4 linked regions of the Homo sapiens genome follow. The protein of the gene in region 3 interacts with the protein of the main gene of each other region in a biochemical or structural test. Each region holds a gene or a part of one and is shown on either strand. Other genes may lie near its edges.

Region 1 (8,040 bases), on a different chromosome or scaffold from region 3:
GGCGAAACCCCTTCTCTACTAAAAATACAAAAAATTAACCATGTGTGGTGGTGTGTGCCTGTAATCCCAGCTACTCGGGAGGCTGAGGCAGGAGAATCACTTGAACCTGGGAGGCGGAGGTTGCAGTGAGCCGAGGTTGCGCCACTGCACTCCAGCCTGGGTGATACAGCCAAGACCCCATCTCAAAAAAAAAAAAAAAAAAAAAAAAAAAGGGAGTTAGATTTGGCATGGGAAGCAGGAGAAGGCAGCACTTCTGTCACTAGGTGGAATGCCCAGGGATGCAAATCTGATTCTTCATGGAGGCCTTTCCTAGGCGAAGAACTTGAGGAGTCCCCTGACTGAGTTCAGCTTCTCTTCCAATTTGAGAACTCTGTCAGCGGAATCCAAGCACGGAATGGGTGGCCGTTTTGGGGGCTGTTGTAAAAAGGTCCACAGGACTCCCAAAGGCCCTTCAAACGCTAAAAAGACATAATTCCTAATGATGTAAGGCTAAACTGTTTTGAAAAAGAAATGTTTAGTAAACTTTTATTTATTTATTTATTTATTTATTTTTGAGACAGAGTCTTACTCTGTCACCCAGGCTGGAGTACAGTGGCATGATCTTGACTCACTGCAACCTCTTTTCTCCCCGGTTCAAACAATTCTTATGCCTCAGCTTCCCAAGTAGCTGGGATTACAGGCATGTGCCACCATGCCCAGATAATTTTTTTGTATTTTTAGTAGAGACAGAGATTCACTGGGTTGGCCAGGCTGGTCTTGAACTCCTGGACTCAAGTGATCCGCCCACCTCAGTCTCCCAAAATGCTGGGATTATAGGTATGAGCCACCATGCCCAGACTAGTAAACTCTTCATAGAAGAGGTGAGGACTAATCTGGTCTTTAAAGTTGGAAAGGGTCAGGAAAGCAGAAAGAAGAGTCACTCTGCAAAGAACCAATGGGAACTGTTTTTCTAACCTGTAACACCAAATGAATCATGCCCCTCTCACCTTAAGACCTATTCTTCTTCTCAACTATTCGTGGTGTTATGGGCCATCATCCTCCCAATCCCTTTCTCAGTCACTTGCAATCCTTTGCCTCCCTCAATCTTCACATCCCATTGGTTGCTAAATTGTTCCACTTTTCTCGCAGTAAGTTCTGCGTCTGTTCCTTCTGCTCCATTTGTGCTATCATTGGCTTTGTTCATGCTATCATCACCTCTGGATGATGATATCATCACCTCATCTGGATGACTACAATAGTCCTCTGGATGGATACAGTGTTGCCAAATTAATTACCCTGAATCAATGCTCTGAATATGTCAATCCCTGGCTCCAAATCCAAATGCTTCATTCAGTTCCTATTGCCTTTACAATAAACATGAAATTTCTTAGGCACTCAAGGCTTTCATGATCTGGCAGAGAATGAGGGAGAAGGAGAAAATGAGACAGAGAAGGGATTGATTAAATTTTGTATATCCTCCCTTCCTTTCTTCCTTCCTTCCTTTTCTTTCATCCTTCCTCTCTTTCTTTATTTTTTTGAGACTGAGTCTCACCCTGTTGCCCAGGCTGGAGTGCAGTGGTACAATCATGGCTCACTGCAGCCTTGACCTAGGCTTTCTAGCAATCCCCCCTGCTTCAGCCTCCCAAGTAGCTGGGATCACAGGCACACGCCATCACGCCTGGCTAATTTTTTATTTTTTGTAGAGACAGAGTCTCCCTATGTTGCCCAGGCTGGTCTCAAACTCCTGGGCTCAAGTGATCCTCCCACCTTTGCCTCCCAAAGTGCTGAGATTTCAGGCATAAGCCACTGCGCCTGGCCTCTGTATTAGTTTCTTAAGACTACTGTAACAAATGACCATGAAATGGGTGGCATAAGACAACAGAAATTTAGTGTCTCAGAGTTCTGGTGGCTAGAAGTCCCAAATCAAGGTGTCAGCAGAGCCGTGTTTCCTCCGGAGGCTTCCTTTCCTCCTCCTAGCTTCTGGTGGCTCCTGGCAAACCTCGGTGTTCCTTGGCTTGTGGCTGCATCACTCCAATCTCTGCCTCTGTCTTCACATGGTCTTCCTCCCTGTGTATCCAAATCCCCCTCTCCTTTCTCTAATAAAGACACTAGTCAGGCCAGGTGCGGTGGCTCACACCTGTAATCCCAACACTTTGGGAGGCCGAGGTGGGCAGATCACCTGAGGTCAGAAGTTCGAGAGCAGCCTGGGCAACACAGCAAAACCCCATCTCTACTAAAAATACAAACATTAGCTGGGCATGACGGCACATGCCTGTAGTCCCAGCTACTTGGGAGGCTGAGGCAGGAGAATCGCTTGAACCTGGAAGTGGAGGTTGCAGTAAGTTGAGATCGTGCCACTGCACTCCAGCCTGGGCAACAGAGCGAGACTCTGTCTCAAAAAAAAAAAAAAAAAAAAAGACACTAGTCATTAGATTTAGGGACCATCCTAACCCAGTATGGCCTCATCCTAATTTTATTTCTGCCAAGACCCTGTTTCCAAATAAGGTCACATTCACAGGTACTGGAGGTTATGGCTTGTACATACCTTTTTGGGAGTTACAAATTCAACCCTCTACAATTCCCACTGATAGAAACTACCAGAGCAATGGCTTAGCATAGGGATGGTATCTTGCTTGTGAAAAGGTCCTGGATAAAGAATTTCAGGAATGGTGGGAGGTAATATTAAACAGAGAGGTTTTTTGTTTGTTTGCTTGTTTTTGAGGTGGAGTTTGGCTCTTGTTGCCCAGGCTGTAGTGCAACGGTGCGATCTTGGCTCACCGCAACCTCCGCCTCCCAGGTTCAAGCGATTCTCCTGCCTCAGCCTCCCAAGTAGCTGGGATTACAGGCATGTGCCATCACGCCTGGCTAATTTTGTATTTTTAGTGGAGACGGGGTTTCTCCATGTTGGTCAGGCTGGTCTCGGACTCCCGACCTCAGGTGATCTGCCAGCCTCGGCCTCCCAAAGTGCTGGGATTACAGGCGTGAGCCACCGTGCCCAGCCTGAGAGTTTTTTGAACAATAGAATACCATGCACGATTAAAGGATAAAATTTTAATTTTGTGAAAAATCAGTCTGGAAGCTGGATTTAGGAGTGATTAGAGGAGGCAAAGCTAGGAGGGTTAACAGGATGTCTCAGCAGCCCAAAAGTGAAGAGGTAAGCACAGACCTAGATTCTTAGCCTCAGAGGGCTGGAAATTTCACCTCTTTCTGAGCAGCAGCTGAGAGCCTGTAGCCTAAAGCCTACAACAGTGTTTGTAACATAGTAGGGCGCTCAGAACACATTTGTTGAACAAGTGAATGGACAGGTAAAGTGAGATTGCAGCAGCAGGAATGGAGAGGAGGAAAGATGCAACAGGCCCTTCAGAGGTAGACTGAGATAGCTGGCTCTACAATAAGGTGGGGCTGAAGTATTTGTCCTTCAGTGTACACAGGGGACTGGTTCCAGGAACATCCAAAACCATGCATACTCAAGTCCCACAGTCAGCTCTGCAGAACCCACAAATAGGAAAAGTTGGATCTCTCAGTTTTGAACCTGCCAAATACTGTCTTTTCTTTTTTCTCCCTTTTTTTTTTTGAGACAGGGTCTTGCTTTGTTGCCTAGGCTGGAGTGCAGTGGTGCGAACATGGCTCACTGCAGCCTCAACCTTCCAGGCTCAAGTGATCCTCCCACCTCAGCCTCTCCAGTAACTAAGACTACAGGCACCTGCCACCATGCCCGGCTATTTTTTAAATTTTTATGTTTGGCAAGATGGGGTTTCTTTACATTGCCCAGGCTGGTCTCGAACTCCTGGCCTCAAGTGATCCTCCCGCCTCGGCCTCCCAAAGTGTTGGGATTACAGGCGTAAGGCACTGTGCCAGAGCACGAATACTGTATTTTCAATCAGATTTTGGTTGAAAAAAAGCCACGTGTAAGTGGACTCGTGCAGTTCAAACCCGTGTTGTTCGAGGGTCAAGCGTAGCATCACCTCGGTTGGAGGCGGACGGACCCCTCTCCTAGCACCTGCCGTACACTGTCTAGCATAATAAGTCTCCACGCCCTCTCTTCCACCTTAGCGTGTGCCTCTGCATCATGCTATTCATGTTTCTGTGTGTCCTCAACAGCACCCTGCACACAGTAAAACCTCAATGCATCTTCCAATAAGTGGATTTCTAGATTTAAGCAAAATCGAAAGATTCCTGGATCTAAACTCTGGATTTTTGACTTCTGTACGCTTCAAAATGCCTGGCACTCGGTGAGCGCCCCTTAAGCACTTGTTGAACCAAACAGAATAAATCGGATTCGCCCAGTTCCGCCCTGGCAGCGAGGTCTGCATTTGGCAGGATGACAGAATCCATTGCTATTAAATTCTTATGTAAGAGTTAATGGCCCTCCCAGCCCACTTGACATCCCTCCCGAGACAAGAGAGGCCGGGAAAGGAAGGGAGAGCACTATTTACAAACATACACTGTTTCGGTGGTGGATTCACAGATTCATTTCTAGTCTCGGTTCACCACAGAGATCTTAAAATACCGCTGCAGGCTCCGTGTGGGACAGAGGGGGCGGCGTGCCGGGACTCGGAGGGGAAGGCCTGCGCACCCAGCGCGGCGAGCCGTGGTCCTTGCTGCCGTCCCGGGGCTCCGGGTGGCAGCGGCCCCAGAAGGCGGCTCGAGCTCACGGCGGTGTCCGGGGGGGGGCCCCGCGGGCGCCGGTGCAGGCTTGGCCTGGGAGGTCCCCTGGGGAAACAATGCGTCCCGCCCCGGACTCCAGCCTCCCCTAAGCGCCGCGCTGCTCGCCGCTCCTCTCACTGCCGTCCCGCCGCTCCAGGGGGCGCCGCGCGTGGCCGTGTCCGGCCTCTCCCGAGCCCCGGCGGGTGACGGGCGCGGAACATGGCGGCGCGGGGCCCCGGGCAGCCGCGAGGGGCCGCGGCGCTGCGGTCTCGGCTGGGGCGGCGCGGCTAGAGCTGCGCCTGGGCCCGCCGGCGAGGCCTCCTCCCCGCCCGCCGCCGCCGCCGCCGCCGCCGCGCCCCGCCCCGCGCGCCCGCCCCTCCCCGGGCCGCGGCCGTGCCCCGCGTCGCGCTCCCCCGGGATGGCCCGCGCGCCTCGGCGCTGCCTCTCGGAGCTCACGGCGGAGCGGCGGCGGCCGCGCTCGAGGGGCGCGCGGCTGCAGCGGCGGCGGCGCCGCGCGTGAGGGGCCGCCTAAGGCCGAGCGGGCGCGGCGAGCGGCCGGGCGAGCGCAGCCAACATGTCGGATACCAAGGTAAAAGTTGCCGTCCGGGTCCGGCCCATGAACCGACGAGGTGAGGAGCTTTCCGCTCTTTTTTATTTCTGCTCGGGCTGAGGGCGGGGGCAACTTTAGAAACTGCGGGGCCGGGACGGCGAGAGCGCGGCCGGGGCCGGGGGGCCGGGGCGGAGGCGGCGTCCGCGCTGGCCGTGGTGCCCGGGGCGCCGTCTCCAGGCTCGGCCGCCTCCAGGGACGGAGCCCCGCTCGGCGCGGCTGGCGGGCGGGCGGGCTGGAGGCGCGGATGCTGGACTTTGCAACGTCCCTTTCTCTCTGCTTTCAGAACTGGAACTGAACACCAAGTGCGTGGTGGAGATGGAAGGGAATCAAACGGTCCTGCACCCTCCTCCTTCTAACACCAAACAGGGAGAAAGGTAAAGCGGGTTCCGAGAGGGCGGCTGGGAGGATCCAGCCTCGCGGGGTCCCGCAAGTTTGAGCCAGGAAAATGGGAGTGCTCTTTCCTATTGTTAGGAGGACGGCTTCAAGTTTGTCGCCGGCTCCTGTTTGAAGCTGTTGCAAGTCCAAGTTCCTCTCCTCCCTCGCCCCCCTTCTCCTCCATCTAGAGCGGCGGCAGGCAGGGCACCCTGGCCACAGCACCAGTCAGCTGAGCCCGGGCGGGCTGCGAGGCACCCGGGAGGGAGAGGGCCGGATGGGACCCCATAGGTGATTCGTCCAGCGGCCACATTTTACAGACAGGAAAACTGAGGCCCGAGGCGGGCAGGTGACCAGCCCACGACCTTATTGTTCGTGGAACCCAGTGTCCGTGATTCTTTTCATCACTGCAGGGTTTGTTTCCTTTGGCAGAATTGTTTAGGGACAGTGTGTCTAAAATGGGAGGAAAAAATAAAGCAAAAGTCTTGTACGATGTAGACTCAGGCTGGACTAGTTAGTATCTATTTTAGTTGTTGTTGCTGAGTTGAGATAATGCCTCAATGTAATGCGCGAATTTTGATTTTCAAAGAAACAAAAGTAGGGCCCTGAACTGTATAGACACTGAGGGATGTTTAAAAAGGGGCTGTATTTACTAGATGGCAACATATTTGCATTTGAAAAGTGGTAACTGTTGGATCCTTATTAATTCCGTTCTGTTCCATGCAACAGTATGGGTTAACGCCCCAAAATAATTTGAATATTTGGCATTTTTCTAGTAAGCCTCTGAGAAGAAATCGGTTGGAATTCATTCAATATAATAATGCAGTAGCTTGTAAATATATATATGTGAAAAAACGGGAGAGTTTACAATATTAATTTTCATTGGAAATGAATATGAGTTTGTGTTTCCACGAATCACCTGTTGATCGATGGAATACAATTTAGTGAATTTCCTTCTTCAGAGATTTTCACTGAAGAGAGACTCTGAAGCAGGGTTTGTGACATTATTGCTTAGAGAAGCAATGCCTCCATTCTATAATGTGTGGTGTTCAAGCTCAGTTTTGCCAAATTTGGGGAAAGAAATCATGAGGCGATAAGATTGGGGATTCTTTGCTTTTCGTGTTGAGCATAGCAGTTTTTATCCAGTTTGCAAACATTCTGCTACCTTTAGCAGATTCTGGTGGTGATATTAAATAGCTAAGCTATATGTAAAATGTTGTGTTTAACACTGAATGTAGTGTTTATTGTACATTGTACTGAATGTTGTCTAGTAATGGATGTATTTTTAGATGCATTTATAGCAGTGTAGATAGTATAGCATATTTCATGGTGATAGTAAGTAAACTCATTGAGTACATTAAATATTTACAGATTAAATTAGATGCCCATATCACCAACGAATGTCCCCTCCCCCCACCCCCCCGCAAACTGCATATTGTTTCGGGAAAAAATTCTGTTGGGTCAGATTCTTGAAAGCAGTCTGGGGGAACAGGTAGAATACTTTTTAGCTCCTGTTGTGTAGCCGTTACTTGTTTTCCTTGCTGGCTTGGCACCTGCTCCTTGTCACTCTTAACCATAAGCAGTGCGACTGTTAGCTACTGTTTAATGACATGAAGTGTTGTCATTTGTGAAGAGAAACAGATTTGATTTTGTGGGATTTGGTACAATCTATAACTGTGGACAGTTGGTTCCAAATGCTAAGTAATCAGTTGATCATTTTTCGGGCTGAACCACGTTAGTTACTAATCAGGATCTTTTAGGTAAAGATTTGAAGGGTGATTTTGGGATCTATTCATCTGCTTACTTACGATAGTCCCTTATCTGGAGTTATAAAAATAGCATTGAAATATGGGTACTCTCGTGTTTTGTCCTTCTGACGGATCTAATTCTTTGAATAGCAGATGAGCTTTCTGTGGGATTCTGTCTTGAGTACCGGTCATTTCATTTACAGACAAACTGAGTAGTCAACAAAACAGTGCTCCTTGTACATTAGGATTACTGTCTTTGCACAGATGAAGACACCAAATGCATTTTTATTTTCATTATGCAGCTTGGTTTCATATTTCTCCACAGACTTTTCCCTTAAAGTAACAGTGCATTTAAAAATAGAAACAATTCCTCCCTTGGGCTCTGGGTTGATTAATTGCAGCAGTGCTTCATGCTATGTTTGCAATTCATTTCTGTCATTGGTTTTTAGATAGTGCTCAGGGCAGGGCAAAGGTGAAGAGTAGAATACTGAGAATGTTATTATTTTTCATATCTGCAAGTCCAAGGTTTGAAGTGTAAGAGGTCTTTAAATGCATATTGGCAAACCTGTGTCAAATTGAGAATTACTGTTTTTCTGAAAGTTGCAAGAAATTACCAATGAATTAGCCATGGATAGAAATTGAAGGTTAGTGGGTGAAAGTTTTCAGTCTTACCAGTAAAAACAA
Region 2 (7,044 bases), on a different chromosome or scaffold from region 3:
CAGGTCAGGATATCTTTGCTGCTTCATTTTTAATTCCTAACAGTAGAGTCTGATAGGAAAGAATAGAGAAGTCATTAAATAATTTTAAATTATTTATAAAAATTACTTTGCCCAAACTATAATTATTTTTTCCCCAAATGGTCTCAAATGTCTAACAGAACGAAAGAAAAAGCAGTTCAACATTGATTTTAATGAACATTTTAATGTTATGTATAACAGAACATTATGAATATAATGGAAATAAAGTTTTATCAATTTAATAAAAAAATTTTCAACATAACATGGGGAGGTAATAATTTGATATCTATATTATAGTATTTATTTTGAAAAATATTCCCAGCTTGAGGGTAAAACAATTAATTTTGCATTCCAAACTCTAGAATCATGATTTTCATGTGAGCTTAATGCAGAATTACAGCAGAAAAACAAAAACATTTTCATTAATTTCCTTTGTCATTAAATCAATAAAATCTTTGACTGCTACAGGTCTCCTTTAACAATATATATTTAACTCCTCTATTGGAACCATATTGCTAATGCTGCATTATATACACTCAAAACCAAAACAAAACAAATACTGTATAAAATCTAAAAGCAAACATTGAGTTGTAACATTTATATTTAACTTAAGGTTTTAATGGATTTTTACCTTTGCAGACACCCAAAAAAAAAATAAAATAAATATTTTTCTGACTGTTCCTGACTTAAATGATGGCTACAGGGATAAACACGGAAGGAAGCCTTGCCAAGTTAATCACTGCAAATTGTAAATAATGACTGCTAAAAACAAACAGAAGTTTTTTTCTTTTAAAGGAAACCATAGAGCAGTCCTGAAAAAAATTTCTTCCTAGTTCTGCACAGGATAATTACAGCAGAAGACATGGGAAAAGTCCCATGGCAATCACCAATTGCTTAAAGAGGTTTTGTTACAATAAAAATTTGGATAGTATAATAGCAGTGTTGCTGGAACATTAGCAAAAGTATATACATTCCAGTTACCTTTGATTTAGCCATAATCACATATGTATGCTTTTTTTTTTCTTGGACAAAAATATATATTTTTATAAAAAACTGATCATCCAACTTTAATGATTTCATATATGGACTCAAGAGTGGTAGTAAAAGGAACAGACCCAATTATGACAAGGCGATCCAGGGACAGAAAAATCAAGTTCCTCAGGAAAAGAAAGTATAAAATTAGAGATTCAAACACATTTATTCAGCCCTATTCCAGTCTTCCCACAAATTATGCTGTTAAATGGACTCTTCAGTTGATAAAGGCTTTCAATGGTCTCACCACCCACTTGTGGTCTATCCTCACTGGAAAAAAATGATTTTGACTGCCTCATCTGAAGTGCTCTTGCCTGGCCCTCTGAAATACTGGATATTTCACTTTTATAAAACAGCCTTTTTGGTTCTTTATGTAGATTTATTTTAATTACTTGATAAAAGAAAGGGTAGTTGATTAGCATTTTCCATCCCAACATCACCTATCTGCACAGCTAAAAATTCTTCATTCAATCTGCTTCTTTTACAATCTCTTATTTGCTAAAATTGGCGAAATTTGCAAAGGCATCTTGCTTGGGTTGCACAGTTCCAGAAGTCATGGCTATGTTGGGCATGCCCATTCCCATTGTGCCTGTCAAGCCCATCCCAGCAGCGGACATCCCTATGTTCATGTTCATGCCCATCATGCTCTGGTTCATCATCGGAGTATTTCCAAGAGGGGCCATTCCCATGGTGCCAGTCATCACATTGGGCATGCTCATAGGCATGGGTCCCCCTATCAAAGCATTAGTTTGGGGCCGGACAGGAAGCATGTTCGATGGAGAACTGAGGTTCACAGCTCCAAAACTTTGAGTCATCACATTCATAGGCTGCTGCATATCTACCAGACGAAAACAGACAGAAGAACTTTACCACAATAAATTTTTAGGTTCATAGAACAGAGAACTAATAACTTCTTGACCATCTATCTATACTTCTTTAGCCCCAATAAAATTCCTTTACAGTGATTTTATTAGAAATCAATTACTCTGCACTGGTTCCTCTTGAGACATATATTCAGTGACTATTGGCTCTGGTTCCCCAGAGATGTAGAAACAGTAAGAGTAGACTGGGGAAAAACAGCCAACTTAAAAACATTCCTACAAAACCTATTGTTAAATCCTACTTAACAAGTTGTCAAGAGCTAGTGTGTATAAAAAATCTTTCAAAGGTTTACATCCTTTGACTTATTCTATTTTTAGAACATTCTATTAAAAAAATCAGAAGTATGAAGATTTATACAAAAATCTTTAAAAAGTTTATATCCTTTGACTTATTTTTAGAACATTCTATTAAGAAAAAAACAGAAGTATGAAGATTTATACAAAATCTTGATTTATAATAACAAATAGCTGGAAACAATTGAAATAATTAGCAAGGGAAATCATACACTAATATAACTATCAAGAGCTAACAATCATTTTCCTAAGAATATTATTCAACACAGGGAAAATGATAACTTAATGTTGAATAAGAAACAGTATAGAGAGAATGATCCCAAGTATTAAAAATATGCTTAGAAAAGATGGAAAGTGGCCAGGCGCGGTGCCCCACGCCTGTAATCCCAGCACTTTGGGAGGCCAAGGCGAGTGGATCACTTGAGGTCAGGAGTTCAAGACCAGACTGGACAACAGGGTGAAACCCTGTCTCTACTAAAAATATAAAAATTAGCCAGGTGTGGCGGTGCACGCCTGTAGTCCCAGCTACTCGGAAGGCTGAGGCAAGGAATTGCTTAAAACTGGGAGGTGGAGGCTGCAGTGAGCTGAGATTGCACCACTGCACTCTAGCCTGGGCGACAGAGCAAGACTCCATCTCAGAAAAAAAAAAAAAAAAAAAAAGAAAACATAGAAAGAAATATGTATTAATGGCAATTACCCCTCAACGGCAGAATCAGATGATTTTTGTTTGTCCATCGTATTTGCCTATATTTAAAAAAAAATCTGTATAGCAAATTTTTATTTTAGTGATCAGGTCCTTAAAACTCTCCACAATACAATAAATGTTATCAGGACAAGAATAGAATATAAAGTAATTCAATGTGCCAGGAGGAATACCCAGTAAATATTATGTGAAAATATCTTAAGTGAACAGGCATTTGGTTAACTGTTACAATTTATGTGATATATTTTTATTTATAGTTTGAAGTAGTCCTGGCATTAAGGCAAAAGACTGCAAGTACACAAAGAAGTGGGACGTCTTAAGGTAACTTACTCTGTTGCTGAATCATTGTATTCAGTGATGGCTGCTGGGGTTTGGAAGGCTGCATACCAGGTAGTAAGTTGTCTAGGCTGATGTTTACACTGGGGTCAGACCAAGTAGAGGGCAAGGTTTTGCTGACTGATTTCTGGACCATATCTGTATTCTGATTATAGAGAGGATTAGGCTTCTGCAGCACTGTGCTAACATTTTGCAAAGGCTGGAAAATAGAAAAATGCTCTAAAAATTAAGCATCTGTTCTATAAAAATTATCAGATGGCAATTTAATCACAACAATGAACTTCTGAAACAAAAAGAACCACTAATGTTCTATGCTAATGTCTTCAATACCCTGAATCATTAGCTTCCCAAAGAGGTTCCTCTGAAGTCCCAATCAGGTTTGAGGTGGATAAAACCAACAACTTACCTACACTAACAATTATTCTCCCATCACTCAAAGTCTAGAAGCCACCATCCCTGGCAAATGCCCAGGGGAACTACCGATTTTAGGTTAGTACAGCTTTAAGGAGATACACAAGTGGACATTTATTCTTTCAAAACAGAATTCAGAGGCCAGGCGCAGTGACTTATGCCTGTAATCCCAGCACTTTGGGAGGCTGAGGTGGGCAGATCACCTGAGGTCAGAAGTTCAAGACCAGACTGGCCAACAGGATGAAACCCCATCTCTACTAAAAATACAAAATCAGCCAGGCATGGTGGCACATGCCTGTAGTCCCAGCTACTTGGGAGGCTAAGGCAGGAGAATCACTTTGAACCAAGGAGGTGGAGGCTGCAGTGAGCAGAGATCGTGCCACTGCACTCCAGCCTGGGCGACAGAGCGAGACTCTGTTTCAAAACAACAAAACAAAACAGAGAATTCAGGATATGATGTCTCACATTATACAAGGATATAAGGCAAAACTGTCAAAAAGCAATTTATATTTCACATATCCTGACATTTTGCTGTTCTGTGTATACTTTTACTATCTAAAGTGAGCAACACTAACTGAACTGATTAATATATGGAACAATGTAGGAGAAAGAAGAAATTCAGGAGAAAGAAGCAGAGGTTCCTAGTGGTTATTGAGGATAACTGAAAAGGACAGAAAAAAGGAACAGGAAGAGGAAGAATAATTAAAAATGTACCAATGCAAAGAATTATGACAGTTACAATTAAGACTGCAAATAAAGTAGACTGACTTTATGCTTAACTCATACATTAGGTCTTATTTCTGTTACATAGAGCAGTCACCTTTCTGCTTCTTTCTTCTTTTCCTTCATCCTAATACCCCAAAGACGAGAATCTACACATTAAAATGAGTAATTAGCATCATAAACACATATTCTCAATAGTTTGAGTCAAAAATAGCAAGTTCCTGGTACCATTCAGACACATATTTTCCAAGCCTGCACTTGTCTGAATTCTAAGCTAGTACTAGGTAATTCGGATTTAACTATAAAATAGTGAATTAAGAAGCTCCCATTTTGGTTGTTTTTCTTTATGAAAATGAAAGTTGAAAGATGAGCCTATAAAACATTTATATAATGTAGAGCAGGTCCAGAATTGGGAAGAACATTCACCATTCGAGAGAATGATTTTCCATATTAGCAATAATTATTTACAACCAATGAGTGATATTTCTTTAGGGACATGACCAGAAATTTTACTAAGTGGATACTTGCCGTAAGTGAAACAATATCTCTATTTCTTTTTCTTTTCCTTTTTTTTGAGACGGAGTATCACTCTGTCGCCCAGGCTGGAGTGCAGTGGCGCGATCTCAGCTCACTGCAAGCTCCACCTCCTGGGTTCACGCCATTCTCCTGACTCAGCCTCCCAAGTAGCAGGGACTACAGGTGCCTGCCACCATGCCTGGCTAATTTTTTGTATTTTTAGTAGAGACTGGGTTTCACCGTGTTAGCCAGGATGGTCTTGATCTCCTGACCAAGTGATCCACCCACCTCAGCCTCCGAAAGTGCTGGGATTACAGGGGTGAGCCACTGCGCCTGGCCTATTTCTTTTTCTTAAAGACAATTTAAAAAAACTATCAAGTACCAATTTGTTGTAACAATAAATTTTTGCCATGTTCCTCCTCTGTGCAAAGGCACCATGCTTGGCTTTACAGTGACTACAAGATGGGGGAGAAGGTCTTGCCTTCCAGAATGCAAATGACTATGCTAGGGGAGAGTATGAGGTAAATGAAATGTGCAAATGCGTATATATACACACACAGACACATATTCATACACATAAAAAGGACTTGCTTATTTTTCTGTTTTATACTAATCTATCATTCAATGAGTTAGAGCATCTCAAAGATTATAAATAACAAATTCCAAGGGAACCAGACAACTTACCTGTGATCTTGACATAGGCAAACCAAGTCCCACAGTGTTAGTGCTCATCATAGAGAAATTCATACTCTGGGAAGATGTCATGGTTGCCTGGGACGAGCCCATAAGATCAAACAGGTCTGAAGAATTTGAGGCAGCAGGAGGTGGGCCTAGAGCTGATTGTGAGCCACTAACAAGTTCTACCGCTGGCTGTGAGGCACTGCCAAAGAACTCGCCACTGGAAGCAACAGGGCCTGATGGGGCTTGGTTGAAGGCACTCCAGTCACCAAAGTCTCCATTCCCACTTGTTGCTGTTACTAAGACAGAAATAACTCTAAGGGTAAGAAACTTCATGGAATGCACAGAACAAATGTAACAATCTATGAACTGAAACAAATTAGAGCTGATCTGAGTCCCCCAGATTAACATCTGCAGGTACCATCTCCATCTGGACAGTATTCTTTCTCATAAATATTACACGAGAGTTAACAAGGTGGCAAAGAAAAAACAAACCTCCCAAATATAACGTAAAATCCATCTCTTGGCAGCTCTGTAGGTGACACATTGAATTTACCATAAAAAAAAATGGCCAGGCATGGTGGCTCACGCCTGTAATCCCAGGACTTTGGGAGGCCGAGACAGGTGGATCACAAGGTCAGGAGATTGAGACCATCCTGTCTAGCACGGTGAAACCTCATCTCTACTAAAAATACAAAAAAATTAGCTGGGTGTTGTGACACACACCTGTAGTCCCAGCTACTTGGGAGGCTCAGGCACAAGAATCGCTTGAACCCGGGAGGCGGAGGTTGCAGTGAGCTGAGATTGTGCCACTGCACTCCAGCCTGGGTGACAGAGCGAGACTCCGTCTAAAAAAAAATGAAGAATTTCTCACTTATTTGGCCATACTTCCACTGACAATACAAGGGCTATAACCTTAGCACATTGCCTGCTTCAACTGGGACCATTTATTTACAATCAAAGAGAGGAGGAAAACTCATGTAATATTAAAAAACACAACCAAGCCAGAAACAAGCAAAACCCTATCATACTTTGCAAGTTTAAGGTTGAATGCATAAAATCCATACTCTTAATCACTACAGTCTTATCAATTAACCTCTGATCAATTTTTATATTGAAAGGAACAGATAAATACGCATAAATGGAAGTTGAAAAAGCAAAATGTGAAGAAAGAGCTACATAAAAACCGTCATCTGAAAGCAAATAGTAAGTATGTACCTTCCAAGTTAATTAACACCATCCCTTTGCATTCCATGTTCATTTACAACTTGGAAATACATTTTGTCTAGCCTAAAAAGTGACCAACCACTACAATACCATGTCTCATTATGCTAAATATCAAAAGAGAATAATAAGGTGAAGTCTTTAAAATTACATTCTTCTATTACCATATTAAAATGTAAGCACCCTTGAAAGAGAAAATAATTCACTTAGAAACTCCAAGTTCTACTA
Region 3 (7,000 bases):
AAAAAAAGGCCGGGCGCAGTGGCTCACGCCTGTAATCCCAGCACTTTGGGAGGCCGAGGCGGGCGGATCATGAGGTCAGGAAATCGAGACCATCCTGGCTAACACGGTGAAACCCCATCTCTACTAAAAATACAAAAAATTAGCTGGGCCTGGTGGCGGGTGCCTGTAGTCCCAGCTACTCGGGAGGCTGAGGCAGGAGAATGGTGTGAACTCAGGAGGCGGAGCTTGCAGTGAGCTGAGATCGTGTCACTGCACTCCAGCCTGGGCAACAGAGCAAGACTCCGTCCCACAAAAAAAAAAAAAAAAAAAAGTCAGTTTCCTGAGGCCCACTAGCAATTAAAGACTTCAGAATGAAAAGGAACTAAAGGCAGACAAATGTCACATGCAAACGTTCTTATATTGGCTTTGAGTCTCTAGAACTCCATTCTAGAATCAGGTACCAGTTCTGAACTGATCTATAAGCCGTAATGTGCGGAAAGATCTGCTGTGAAGAAAAAAAAGTGATGGGCGCAGTGGCTCATGCCTGTAATCCCAGCACTTTAGGAGACCGAGGTGGGCAGATCACTTGAGGTGAGGAGTTCGAGACCAGCTTGGCCAACATGGCGAAACCTATCTCTACTAAAAATACAAAAATTAGCTGGACATGGTGGCTCGCACCTATAGTCCCAACTACTCAGGAGTCTCAGGCAGGAGAATTGCTTGAACCTGAAATCGCACCACTGCACTCTGGCCTGGGTGACAGAGCAAGACTCCATCTCAAAAAAAGAAAAAGTTCCTCTGGACTTGAAAATAAAGTAAGTAAGGCTTCTTCTGAACAATACTTAAATTAATCGAGATGAGGAGAAAGAGGCCAGAGACTACAGAACAACGCTCTTTGTGATCTCGGTTTTCCCATCTATGTAATGGGAACACTTTCTGAAGATCTGTCAAATTAACAGTGTAGAGCACCATCCGCTCCATGCCTGGAACTGTGCCCCACACGGAAGCATGCACACAGTAAACAAAGGACAGTCTTTTCTCACTGAGCTCTTACAGATTTAGAGGCCAGGTAAAGGACTGCAGGGGAACGGCAGAGTGATCATGCCTCCAGAGGAGGAGGGTTCTGAGATAGGTGGAGCAGCAAGGGAAGTTCTCTTAGATGAAGAGGGGCTTGGCTGACGCAAAAAGACAGGTCAGATTTAGAGAGGCAAGAGTGGAGGTGGCAAAGAGATGCACCACGAAATTGCCAATGTGACAACGGAGGGAACTGACAACAATTAAATCAACACTAGCTGGGGAACGGCTTCTTGCTAAGTGATTTACAACCCTTCTCATTTAATTCTCAGGGTAATTCAGTTAAAAAACAAGGAATTAGAGACACTGAGAGATGAGTGATTTACCTAAGGCCAAAACAAGAAGTCTGTGAGCCCCGCTGCCTGGCTGAAGGAAAGGACCTGGAAGGGAAAGGAGCAGACGAGGCTAGGGAAGGAAGAATGAGATTCAGAAATGGTTCTGGATGCCAGGTGTGTTGGGTCCTGCCAGGAGAAGACACAATGGTCATGTCAAATGACAAGTCTCATGCTGATAAGCATTTGACACTACTGATCACTCCCTCCTTCCTGAAAACCTGTCTTCCCTCAAATGCTAGGATGCCATGCTCTCTGCCTGCCCTCCTACGCCACTGTCTGCGCCTTCTCAGTCTCCTTTGCTTGTTCCTCTCCTTCTCCTTCAACACTGTGTGCCCCAGGGCTCAGGCCTGGTACCTCTTCTCTTCCCCATCTATGCTATTTTGCCTCTTTGGTGGATCATCCGGTATCACAGCTTTACATACCATCCACATAGCCCAACCTCTCCCCAGAACCCCCGGGCACACATGTCCAAACTGTGTAACTGACATCTCCACATTACTGTGGAGATGACTAGCAGGCAGCTCAAACAATGGGATAAAAACTGACCTCCTGCTTCCTTCCTTTCCCCAACTGGCTCACCCTGCAGTCTACATCATCTAGTTCCTGCCAGCACCATCTTTAAGAGGGCCTCAGGCTAAAAACCTGAGTCACTCTTAACAACATACTCTCCTTTAAATCTATCGGCAAATCCTATTGGATTCCGACCTTCAAAATGAATCTAGAATCCATGAGCAGCTTCTCACTAGCTCCATCACTAACCCCAGCTCCAAGCCAGCATCACCTTCCATTTAGAGTGCTAACAAAGCTGCTCCCACACTGCTTTGCTGACACCCCATCTCAGCAACAGCCAGGATGATCCTCTTACAGTCCAAATCAGACAGTAGCACCCCTCTGCTCAACGTCTTCCAACGGTTCTCTGTCTTACTCATAGTAAAAGCCAAAGTCCCTACCATGGCCTCATAGCCCACAGGTCCTATAAGAGATGCATGCCCCTCCTCTCTCACGCATGCACCCTGCTGGCCATTACCCTTTGAACTCTTCTCCCCATCATTCCCTCAGCTCCAGCCGCACAGGCCTCTTTACTGATCCTCGAACACAACATGCATCCACCCCAGGGCCTTTGCCCGTGCTATTCACTTTGCTAGGAAGGCTCTTTCTCCAGACAGCCTCATGGCTCAGTCCCTCACCTCTTTAGGTCTTGGCTCAAATGTCATCTTCTCATTGAGGCCTTCTTTGACCATTTTATTTAAAATTGTATACCCCTCCCCCATAATCCCCACCACTTCCTAACCCTCTTTGCCCTTTTTCCCTTCAAAGTACTTATTACCTATTACCTACACACTATAAAATATACTTACGTTGTCTATTCTTTCTCCCCCTATAAATTCCCTAATGTAAATGGGGGTAAGGATTTTGTCCATTTTGTTCACTATCATATTCCTGACTCCTAGGCTGGTACCTGGCAAACAGGTGTTCAATAAGTAGCTGAATGACCAGTGCTCAACTCTCTTCTTGGGCAAATTTCATGTTTTGTAAACCAACCTCTGCTAGAGCAGCTTCTCCATGTTCCATTCACGGGGTTATCCAGGATCAGAGATACATCTGCTCTGATTGTCAAGCTATTCTAACTATACTGAAATTGAACATGCCAGACCCCTAGCACATTTACAGCCAATAAATGGAAGTTAAGTGAATAAATTATGAGAGAGAGAAGAAATGGCAAGGGTAGAAGATCAGGTGGCAACATCTCCAGTGGGAGAAACGTTCAGTGAGGCCAAGTCACTCTCACCTGCTCCCATAGGTATCAGCTCAGAGTGACAGAGCTGCAGAAGGTGGGGGGCTCTGGCACAGGATATAAGTACCAGGTCCTTGCCTCCAGGCCCACATGCCTTCTTTGTTCCTCTAACAGCCAACTCTTCACTATCTCTACCCTTGCTGATCCTTCTGCTTGGATTATCCTCTCCTAACTGCTCCAATTTATCCTTCAAATCTCAGCTTAGATGATCTCATTTCAAAGATAACTTCCCTTCAGCGTGATACCTCTGATGCTTAAAAAAAGAAACAAAAAAAAAATACCTTTCCTACATGTACTATCTTTTTTGTTGTTGTTGCTAGAGACAGATAGTCTTGCTCTGTCACCCAGGCTAGAGTGCAGGGGTGTGATCATAGCTCACTGCAGCATCAAACTACTGGGCTCAAGCAATTCTGCTTCAGCCTCCTGAGTAGCTGGGACTACAGGCGTGTGCCATGCCCAGCTAATCTTTTCAAGTTTTTTGTGGAGTCTCGCTAAATTATCCAGGCTGGTCTTGAACTCCTGGCCTCAAATGATCCTCCCACCTCAGCCTCCCAAGTAGCTGGGATTACAGGCATGAGCCACGGCACCTGGCCATGCATGTACAACCTTAAGAAGGTATTTCTCTGTCCACATCCTTCAGTGTTCTTATTCATACATTTCCTGAGCATCTTTCGTGTACCAGAAACACTTCTACATGTTGGGAATGCAGGAGTGAAAGAAACAGACAAAAATCCTTCCCTACATGGAGTTTATGTCCTAATGGGGGAAAGAGACCGTAAGCAAGATAAGTGAGTAAAATATATAACATCTTAGATAGTGATAAACACAATGGAGGCAAAAAAGAGGAGGGAAGGAGGATAGGGAGGGGAGAGGGGAGGAAGGGAAGTTAAAATTTAACTAGGGTGGCCATAGAAGGCCTCCTTGAGAAGGTGACAGGTGACACTGTCTGCGAAAGAGCCTGCCAAGCAAAAGAGATCGCCAGTGCAAAGGTGAGTATGTGCCTGGCATGTCTGAGGAACAGAAGGGAAGTGAATGTGGCTGAGTGAGCAATGAGGAAAACAGTGGGTCAGGAAGTCACAGGAGAATGCAGGGGGCCTTATGATCAAGCGTGAGGTCTCTGGCTTTTACTGAGTGAGCTGGAGCCACTGGAGGGTTTTGAGCAGAGGAGTCCTGACATCTGACCTATATTTTAATAAGTTCTGGCTGCTATGCCTTTTGTTTCCCTTGTGGCTTATTGGTTTTTCTAATCATTGCATTTTTTTCTCTACTTCTTTGTCTCTCTCTCCCATTAAAATGAAGTAAGCAACTAGAGGGCTTATCTGAAGCCTGAAGCCATATCTGGCCTGTTGACCTATCAGCATAGGCCAGCACCAGGCATTAGCAGGCCTCGATAAATACTGAATGAATACTGGACTTAGAAAGTCTCTGTCCTCAGTGTCCCAGCAGCCAGCCACCCAATACTCGGAGATCGGGCAATGAAGACCACCACAGCAGCAGACCCAAGGCTGGCTCTACTGAAATTGTGTTATTCTGCTCCCAATAGGCTTAAGATCCTAAATGTAAGGAGGGTGTGGTAAAAAGTATCTACCACCCAAGTCTATTCCTCTATGGAACTCAGCTACTGAAATGCCAAAAATGAACACTGAAGGTTCAGTTTTAAAGCTTTTGAGACCTGGGCCGGGTGCGGTGGCTCACGCCTGTAATCCCAGCACTTTGGGAGGCTGAGGTGGGCGGATCACAAGGTCAGGAGATCGAGACCATCCTGGCTAACACGGTGAAACCCCGTCTTTATTAAAAATAGAAAAATTAGCCGGGCGTGGTGGCGGGCGCCTGTAATCCCAGCTACTCAGGAGGCTGAAGCAGGAGAATGGCGTGAACCTGGGAGGCAGAGCTTGCAGTGAGCCGAGATCACGCCACTGCACTCCAGACTCCGTCTCAAAAAAAAAAAAAAAAAAAAGCTTTTGAGACCTGACTTTCAAACCTACCACCTTCCAGCTCCGAGTCCACAGGGTAGACTGTGGTAATTGGTGGTAACCTGGGGGATCAGTGACTAAGGCATCCCAGTAACTGATGAATTCTGGGCCTTGTGGGGTCAACCCAGAGTTAGGCCACACTCATACCACAACTAGGAGAGGCCTCCCTTCCTGACAGAGGTCAGAGGTCAAGTCCAAGGCTAAAGACCCAGACAGCATGAGGTGTAGGAGTGTAGAACCATAGCCAAGTCCTTCCTCAGCTCCACTATATAAGAGGGGACAATCTAAACACAAGGAGTGGGTAGGTGAAGGCAGCCATTGCAGGTAGGACAGGGGCTCTCCCAGGTTCTACAAAGCAAACAGGCACAACTGCAGCACAACTGTAAAATGGGAACTACAATGTTACATGCCTGAAGGGTTTGTGAGGCTAAAACAAGTCAATACATACCTAGCCCTTAGCAGTGCCCGGCCCACAAAATGCCTGATAAATGTTAGCCACTATTACTACTACCGAGAGAGAGAGAGTTTACCACTTCCCTGCTCCGTACCAGATTCCCAGGTCTCTGGAAGCCCTGAAACACCCTGATGGCTGTCTGGTGGTACCAACTGTAGTTTGAAAGTAGTCTCAGCACTGATCAGATTTCTCCCTGTCTCTATGAGGTGACATGAGGATGGACAGGAGATAATCTAGAAAGTGCTTTGAACCCCTTAGGAGTCAAGGAATCCTAACAATTCAATGCAATATTCATTCATTCACTCATTCAACACCTGCTGAGCACCAACTATGTACCAGACACCTCACTAGGTGCTGGAGACGTAGTTAAGGCAGGTCTTCGTCAAGGATTAAAAGCTATTTACTGGCCAGGCACGGTGGCTCAAACCTGTAATCCCAGCACTTTGGGAGGCCGAGGCAGGCGGGTCACTTGAGGTCAGGAGTTCGAGACCAGCCTGGCTAACATGGTGAAACCCCATCTCTACTAAAAATACAAAAATTAGCCAAACATGGTGGCAGGTGCCTGTAATCCCAGCTACTCTGGAGGCTAAGGCATGAGAATTGCTTGAACCCGGGAGGCGGAGGTTGCAGTGAGCCAAGATCGCGCCACTGCACTCCAGCATGGGCGAAAAAGCGAGACTCTGTCTGGAAAAAAAAAAAGAGCTATTTACTTAGAAGAGAGCCAAATAAACAATCACAACCCACTGTGACCCTTGCCAGAGGGCATCAAGGAGGGGCATCTAGCTCAGACCTAGGGGTGATGATCAGATGGGAAGAACCAAGTAGCACTCCAGCTAGGCAGGTAAGGTTGGGAGAGCAGGAAATGGTGTTCAGGCAGAGGGAAGAGTGCAAAGCAAAGACAGAGAGGTATAAAGAGTTGGGAGGCCAGGTGTGGTGGCTCACGCCTGTAATCCCAGCACTTTGGGAGGCCCAGACAGAAGGACTGCTTGAGGCCAGGGGTTTGAGACCAGCCTGAGCAATATAGCAAGACTCCATCTCTACAAAAAATAAAAACAATTTGCCAGGCACAGTGGCACCCATCTGTAGTACTAGCTACTTGGGAGGCTGAGGCAGGAGGATCGTTCAAGCCCAGGAGTTGGAGCCTGCAGTGAGCTATGACAGCTCCACTGTACTACAGTCTGGGTAACAAGCCAAGATCCTGTCTCGAAAAAAGAAAAAGAGTTGGTGCTTGCAGAAGTAGCAAGTAGCTGAGGTTGACTGGAGCTTGGGAAAAGGTGAGTGTGGAGCAGGAGAGATGACAAAAGAGAGCTAGGCAGGGGTCAGAGTCCAAAGGGCCTTGAATGCCATGCTAAGGAATGTGAGTTTTAGCCCGAGGGCAACTAGGAGCCAC
Region 4 (7,000 bases), on a different chromosome or scaffold from region 3:
ACTGAAGATGCAGAAAGCGGAGGCAAGCCAGAAGGCTCCATAGGGCCTGAGGACCTCCTGCAGAGAGAGGAAAGGCCATGGGTGGACGCGGGGAGAGATCAGGAAGCCCCACGCGATCACTGAGACAGCTCTGCCACCAGGGGGTCCAGTCCCCTGACCCCAGCCTGCCCTGCCCAAGGCCACACCCATTTTATCTCCACCCAGCTCTGGGACATGGAGGATAGTCTGGCATCCAGTCTGGTGGCTTGGGCCGAGCACTGTCCAAGATACCGAGGTCGTATGGCTGGGGAAACTGAGGCTCACAGCAATGAAGTGACTGCCTCAAGGCCAGAGACCCGCTATCCAGTGACAGCTGGGCTCCTGTTCCAGGTCTGACTCCAGGGCCCACAGACCAACCCTCCACCCTCAGCTTTGGCCCCACCCTGAGGCCCCCGGTGGGTTCTTTCATAGTGTGGTGGAAATGGGTGAGACAGGGCAAAGCGAGCATGGCCCCAGGAGCACATGGGGCCTTCAGTCAGAACCTGTCCCTGCCATCCACCACCACTGTGACCTCCCACGTGCCAGAACTAAAAAGGTGCTTCTCAGCTCCTGGTCCTCTGGGACCTGGCGATCTCTCCCTCCTCGAAGGCCTTCTCTTGGCCTCTTGGACATTTTCTCTCCTAAAAAAGGACTGTTAGGTCCTTTGTCACCTCCTTCTTGGCTTCTTTTCCTCCTTCCTTTGCTGCGCATCCCCTCCCAGCTGCAGCAAGTAATCTCCACCCCCAGGCATCGGCCTGGCCCCCTCGATGTGCTCCCCGGGCAGTCCTGCCTAAGCGGGTCCCAAGCTCTGCACAGACTCCAGGCTGGCCCCTCATGACCCGCCCCACCACATCCTAACCCAGCCCCACTGGGGTTCATTCTCCCACCACTGCCATGGCCTTTCCCGTCCTTGTCATAAAGGGGACCCTGTCCATCTTGTTCATTGCTCTCCCTGGCGCCTTGAATGGGCCTGGACATGGCACATGCCAGGAGACCTGGAGGGCACAAATGACTGAACAAACAACCAGATCATCTACCCCAGAACTGTCTCTCTGTTGGCTGGGAAGCCCCGGGACAGGGGCCACACCTGTGCCAGTCCATCCGTGAGAAGGCAGCAACAGGATGAACTGAATTAATGCTCCCATCCGTCTTAAGAGCAAGCTGCTGTTACTCTCCTCCAGTTTCAGCCAAAGAAGCGGGCTCAGAGAAGGTAAGCATCATACCCAAGGTCACACAGCAAGGAAGTAGCCAGGGTGGGGCTGCAGCCCAGCCCTGTCAACTCTTCCCATGTAAGACCTTAGGCTCAAGGCCCGCTTTCCTGACGTTCACTAAGGGGAGAGGCCAGCTGTGCTGTCTGACTGCCAAGACAGGCAGAGGACTCCCAAGGGGTCACAGCCTGGGTTCCCCATCTGGCCTAGCCCATCTGCCTCCACGTCGCCTTGCCCAAGATGGCCAGTGGCCCAGGCATGGTGGGGCTCAGGCTGCATGTAAGGCCACGACCCTGGGTCTTCTGCAATACAAGTGGTTTTAGAAAGTGCTTCTCGGCTGACTGCACGAACGCGGTGCTGGTGGAGCCTGCCCTCACCATGAGGCTGCTGAACTCCTTGGTCACGAGAAAGGCCATGAGCCAGTTGGTGAGGACGCAGATGCCTGTCGCCACGCCCTTGACATGCAGAGGGAAGATCTCTGACATGAGGAGCCAGGGGATGGGCCCCCAGCCCACCGCAAAGCCTGTGGGAGCGAGACAGGCAAGACAGGCATCAGGGTCCGCAGGGCTGGGCTCCTCAGCTTGCTGCAGAGCCAAGAGACCCAGCTTCCCAGCCTGTGGGGCTGTGGGGTCCCGGATCCCAGTGTGGTCCCACCAGCTCCATGCTTTCCTGCCAAGGCCTCGGCCAGCCTCTTCCCTCCTCAGGCACAGGCTCTGTCTCTGAGATGGGGTCACAACGGGGCCTGCTCGAGGGCTGCTCAGGGGATTAAGTGAAAGGAACGCAGAGGGGCCTAGTTCCACAGCTGCATGTGGTCAGAGCTAGAAATGCAGAGCTTGGAACTTACGAGAGGAGAGGTGAGGCTGGGGAAGACCCCACCTGCCGGGAGCCGCCACAGCAGGGCCGGGGGGATCACCTCCCACTCCTCGCCCAGCCTCCCACAGGCCCCCTTACCGGCGATGAAGAGGCACATGCTGCCCACGGCCAGCCAGGCCAGCCCCACGCTGGCATCAACAGGCTGTGCAGAGACAGGCGCCGAGATGGCCACGTGCGAGGAGTTGCCAGGGCCACCCTGGGTCAGCTTGAAGTAGGCGCCGAAGGCACTCGTGCTGAACACCATGACCACACCTGCAGGCGGGAGGGCGGCAGTGGGCGGGGCACCCGGGGAACGGCCCAGGGCGCAGCAGCATGGCCTGGATGCCTCTGAGAGGGGCAGGCCCGGCTCCCAGAGAACGGCCAGCTTGGTGTTCTGGCACCTTGGCCGCAGAAGCCCTGACTGGGTGGCAGCCACCCCGCCTTGGACCTCAGCGAACTGCAAAAAGTTCCCGGAGCAGACCCTCTGGGCCGAGGAAATGGGAGGTACCGGCACAGAAGCAGCAGCGAGTAACCCTCAGCCCCGACGGTCGTCTTCGCAGCAGCTGCTGGGTACCAAATGTCCGTGGGCCGCAGCTCTTGCTGAAGGCCTCACGTGGATCACCTCCCACTCCTCAAAATGGTGCTGAGGGAGGCACTGCCATTACCCCCACTTCCCAGAGGGGGAGACTGAGGCTCAGAGAGGTAAAGTCACTTGTCCAAAAGGACCCACAAACTCTTGAGTCACTTCACCTTCCTGGCCCTCAGTTTTCCCGTCATAAGCTGGGGCTGTGAGAGTGCCTTCTGGTGGGTTCACCACAGAGGTTAAAGGCGTGGTGTGGGAGTGCCACTGGCATGGACAGGCCTGCAGTGAGTGCTTGGTGACAAGCTGCTGTCAAATCATGGCCGCATTAGTCCATGATGTTTGTCATCACAAATGCTCCCTGTCCTCCTCCTGCAGTGTGGTGGCCTTGGCGAAGGCCCTCCCCCGCATGGCGGGGAGGCTGCACAGGGGTGAACCCTCACCTGACAAGACCAGGAGCAGCCTCCGCCCTGCTCTGTCCATGATGAGAGCCGCCACAGCTGTGAACAGCACCTGGATGACACCCACGACGACCGAGGCCAGGCTGCTGTCCTGGGGGAGACAGAGCCCAGGCAGGTCAGGTGGGCCAGCTGAGAGCTGGGTCCCTCCCTCTCCAGGCCTGTGCTGGATGGCTGGGCCCTGGGCTTGGGGAGGAAGCTCCATCTATGTGGGGGCTGGACGAGGCAGGCCAGGCAGGGCCCTTTTACCTTGAACTTGGCCTCTTCAAAGATGGTCTCTGCATAGAACATGACGGCGTTGACCCCCGACAGCTGCTGGAAGGCCATCAGGGAGACGCCGATGATGAAGGGCTTGTAGATGCCGGGCTGCCGCAGCAGGGCCAGGTGAAAGCTCTGCTCTGACGGATACTGGCCATCAGGATTTCTCTCTCCCCTCCCGCAAGCGGCCCCCCTCTGGGGGTCTACTGTCCTAAGGCTTGGGGAGCGCTGACTCCCACGTCTTGGCTCCTCATCCCAGCACCCCCTGTGTCCTCAGGTGTGCAGACAAGTCCCAGCCTCCCCATGTGTCAGGTGAGATGACCCTCACCTGCCCAGGGCACTTCCTGATAGGTGGGGGGGAGCCACAAAGAGGTAATCTGGGCAAAGAGCAAGCTGCTGCCCTCATCCCTGCCACCACCAACACATCCAGCACCTGCCTCAGGTCTGGGCCTGGCCCTAGCTAAGCACCTCCTACAGCCCTGACCCTCCCCTCCCCACTGAACCCATCCTCCTCGCTGACCCCACCCTCCCCACTGAGCCCCCCTCCTCCCTAAGCCCCGCCTTCCTTTCCCCCACTGAGTCCCACCCAGCACTGTGAAGCAGGTGCTGACTCCCACATCACAGGTGAAGAGCTAAAGCTTAGGTGAGGGGCAGCGTGGGGGCTTCAAACCCATGCCTGGGTGACTCTAAAACCCAGACTTTTAGCCCTCTACCCTGCCTTGCAACTCCTTTGTTAAATCCAAGTCCTCAGCTCTGCCTCTGTATCCCCCACCAGGCCTGGCCATTCTCTTCCTGGGACAGTAAGGGTCAAAGCTCGGGCTTTGCTGGTGACTTTGGAGGCCAGGGCCCAGCTCCGTGGGGCTCCAGCTGTCTTGGCCTGCTCAAAGACAGGACACACTGGGCCTGTCCTCGCTGAGGGTGGAGGGTGGATAGGCACCTCCCTGTCCCCCACCCCCCAAGTGTGTGGCCTTGGGAACAGGCTGTGCTACCCTCCCGTGACTGCTGTCCCACTCCTGTCAGCTCTGCCTTCCAGCCTCTCACCTGCTCAGCCCCGATGGGGGGGTCTTCCCAGCCCTGCTCGGAGCCCCACAGGAACCGCAGGGCGGCCATGGCCTCCTGGCGCCTGTGCTGAGTCAGCAGGAAGCGCGGGGTCTCGGGCATGAAGCACATGAGAAGCAGCATGAGGGAGGGGGGCACGCAGCCCAGCACAGCCAGCCAGCGCCACTCCAGCACCCAGCCTGCGGGGGGTGGGTGGAGGAGGCTGGCGTCAGAGCCAGGGTGAGCCAGCCTGGGCCTTGCCAGCCTCAAAGACTCAGCTTCAGAGATGGGGCCTCGCTGCCTCTGCACATCTGCCCTCATGTTCGCTACTGACATTGCCATTATCACAACTGTTCATGAAGGCACATGGCACGGGCCAATCACACCAGCTGCGGAAGCGACAGTGGGTATGACAACGCGGACATTACTAGGCTGCATCCGTTCAACGAAACATTTATGTAGCCACAAAAATGAAGGATGAGGTGCTTGCTGCGTGTCCGCATGGTATGATGTGGCACCATTTGTAGAAGAGGTGGGGGAGGGAGGATAAATATGCATGTCCCTCATATGAACAGACTCTCTGAAGGCTACCAAGAAACAGGCAATGGGGACTCCCCCAGACAAGAAAGGGACAGAGGCGGAGGAAGCTTTTCACTGGACATCTCTCCACTCTGGCACTTGAGTGTTGAGTCATTTGAATGCATTATCTATTCAAAGTATACATGAAAGTAGAGAGGTGAGAGGATTTTGCTGTCTTGACGTATGAAGAACAGCATAAGTGCAGAATTACCTAGTTTTATATAAAGTTAAAAGGTTCTCTTACAAAGGGGCCCTGGAATAAATGAGTCTAGGGCATTGCTGCTCTAATTACTAATTTTTCCTAAGCCCAAGGCTTACCCATCCCTGGTTCCCAGTGGAAAAATACCTCTAAGGTAGCCATGATGTCCCTATTTTTCTTCTGTGCTGGGGGTGCAGACAATTGTTCTATGAAGTCTAGTCGTTGGAACATGATTGCCCCAATGTGAAGCAAACGTGCCACCACCATGTCACTTTGTGGAGTTATCAGAGTTCACCCACCCCAGTGGATCGAAACTCACAGAAATTGATCAGGAAAGGCAGGAGAAGCAACAAGCACATATTAAGATGAGCTGAAGATAGTGCCACGGGTGGGTGGACACCCAGTACCTGTCCCCGAAATGATGAATGTCAACACCTGCACACAGTGGGGGCTTTGGTTTACTCAGGTCTCCCAAGGTAGCCAGATCGCTGGCAGGATTCTGAATTTGTTAGGGTGGTTAAGTGGGTAAAAATGAAACACCAAAGACCTGTGTATCATCCGCCCTGACGATGCAGAGGGCTTGTGCCCTGGGCCAGGCCATAGCCCGTCAGGCCCCCGAGGCCTCCTACCCCGATGATCCCCATGGTTCTCAAGTCATCCCTTGACAATTCTCATTTGGAACCCACTGTTAGGCACTTTTCATGTGTCAATTAATTTAATGGACAGGTACTGGACTAGATGAGGTTATGCCCATTTCAAGACAGAGAAACTGAGGCTTTCAGAGGTGGTATGACTTGGCCAAGGTCACACAGCACGTAGGAGAGGCTATCCCCAAACTCAGGATGGTCAGATTTGAAGCCTGCCCTTGTTTTTTCTTTCTTTTTGAGACAGAGTCTCACTGTGTCGCCCACACTGGAGTGCAGTGGCGCGATCTCAGCTCACTGAAACCTCAGCCTTCTGGGTTCAAGCAATTCTTGTGCCTCAGCCCCCCAGGTAGCTGGGATTACAGGTGCCCACCACCACGCCTGGCTAATTTTTGTATTTTAAATAGAAATGGGTTTTCACCATGTTGGCCAGGCTGATCTCGAACTCCTGACCTCAAGTGATCCGCCCACCTCTGCCTCCCAAAGTGCTGGGATTACAGGTGTGAGCCACTGGGTCTGGCCTCTAAAGCCTGGCCTCTTTCTAATGAGAACACACCTGTCTCCTGAAGTTTCTTCATGCTGGCCCAGCTTTGCCCCTCGGGGTCCCCAGGACCCCGGCCTCCTTCACGTTGCAACTCGCCGACATGGTGAATCTGGCACTGACATTCTCAGGGGACTTGCTCAGCCCTTTACTCGCCCGGGCTGAAGATTTTTACAGGGACCCACCCACCTCTGGAGCCCTCTGGTTTGTCACTGCACAGTAAGGTACTGACCTAAGCAGTCAGCCCTTCCCACACCCCTAGAGGGGGCTTCAGGAAAGCTGAGGGTATCACCTTCTCCAGCTGTCCCTGGAACTCAGTCATAAGACACACCTATCGGCCGGGCGCGGTGGCTCACACCTGTAATCCCAGCACTTTGGGAAGCTGAGGTTTGGCGGTTCATGAGGTCAGGAGATCAAGACCATCCTGGCTAACACGGTGAAACCCCCTTTCTACCAAAAATACAAACAATTAGCCAGGTGTGGTGGCACATGCCTGTAGTCCCAGCTACTTGGGAAGCTGAGACAGGAGAATCGCTTGAACCCAGGAGGCAGAGGTTGCAGAGAGCCACCACTGCACTCCAGCCTGGGCGACAGAGCGGGACTCTGTCTCAAAAAAAAAAAAAAA

The links.
Region 1: the proteins of AP1B1 (region 3) and KIF13A form a complex in vitro, tested with the Homo sapiens proteins (one study listed by BioGRID).
Region 2: the proteins of AP1B1 (region 3) and CLINT1 form a complex in vitro, tested with the Homo sapiens proteins (one study listed by BioGRID).
Region 4: the proteins of AP1B1 (region 3) and SLC2A8 form a complex in vitro, tested with the Homo sapiens proteins (one study listed by BioGRID).

The regions. Positions count from the first base shown.
Region 1 is NC_000006.12:17,984,624-17,992,663, reverse strand, and holds the start of KIF13A (kinesin-like protein KIF13A), read left to right. Parts: upstream 1-5,028; 5' UTR 5,029-5,200; coding exon 5,201-5,255; intron 5,256-5,519; coding exon 5,520-5,610; intron 5,611-8,040. UniProt on the Homo sapiens protein: Plus end-directed microtubule-dependent motor protein involved in intracellular transport and regulating various processes such as mannose-6-phosphate receptor (M6PR) transport to the plasma membrane, endosomal sorting during melanosome biogenesis and cytokinesis.
Region 2 is NC_000005.10:157,786,105-157,793,148, forward strand, and holds part of CLINT1 (clathrin interactor 1), read right to left. Parts: intron 5,892-7,044; coding exon 5,599-5,891; intron 4,548-5,598; coding exon of another isoform or gene 4,521-4,547; exon of another isoform or gene 4,496-4,520; intron 4,337-4,495; exon of another isoform or gene 3,464-4,336; coding exon of another isoform or gene 3,410-3,463; coding exon 3,259-3,409; intron 1,915-3,258; coding exon of another isoform or gene 1,889-1,914; coding exon 1,542-1,888; 3' UTR 1-1,541. UniProt on the Homo sapiens protein: Binds to membranes enriched in phosphatidylinositol 4,5-bisphosphate (PtdIns(4,5)P2). May have a role in transport via clathrin-coated vesicles from the trans-Golgi network to endosomes. Stimulates clathrin assembly.
Region 3 is NC_000022.11:29,378,571-29,385,570, forward strand, and holds part of AP1B1 (AP-1 complex subunit beta-1), read right to left. Parts: intron 1-7,000. UniProt on the Homo sapiens protein: Subunit of clathrin-associated adaptor protein complex 1 that plays a role in protein sorting in the late-Golgi/trans-Golgi network (TGN) and/or endosomes.
Region 4 is NC_000009.12:127,400,169-127,407,168, reverse strand, and holds part of SLC2A8 (solute carrier family 2, facilitated glucose transporter member 8), read right to left. Parts: intron 4,613-7,000; coding exon 4,416-4,612; intron 3,510-4,415; coding exon 3,366-3,509; intron 3,211-3,365; coding exon 3,102-3,210; intron 2,352-3,101; coding exon 2,178-2,351; intron 1,750-2,177; coding exon 1,604-1,749; intron 58-1,603; coding exon 1-57.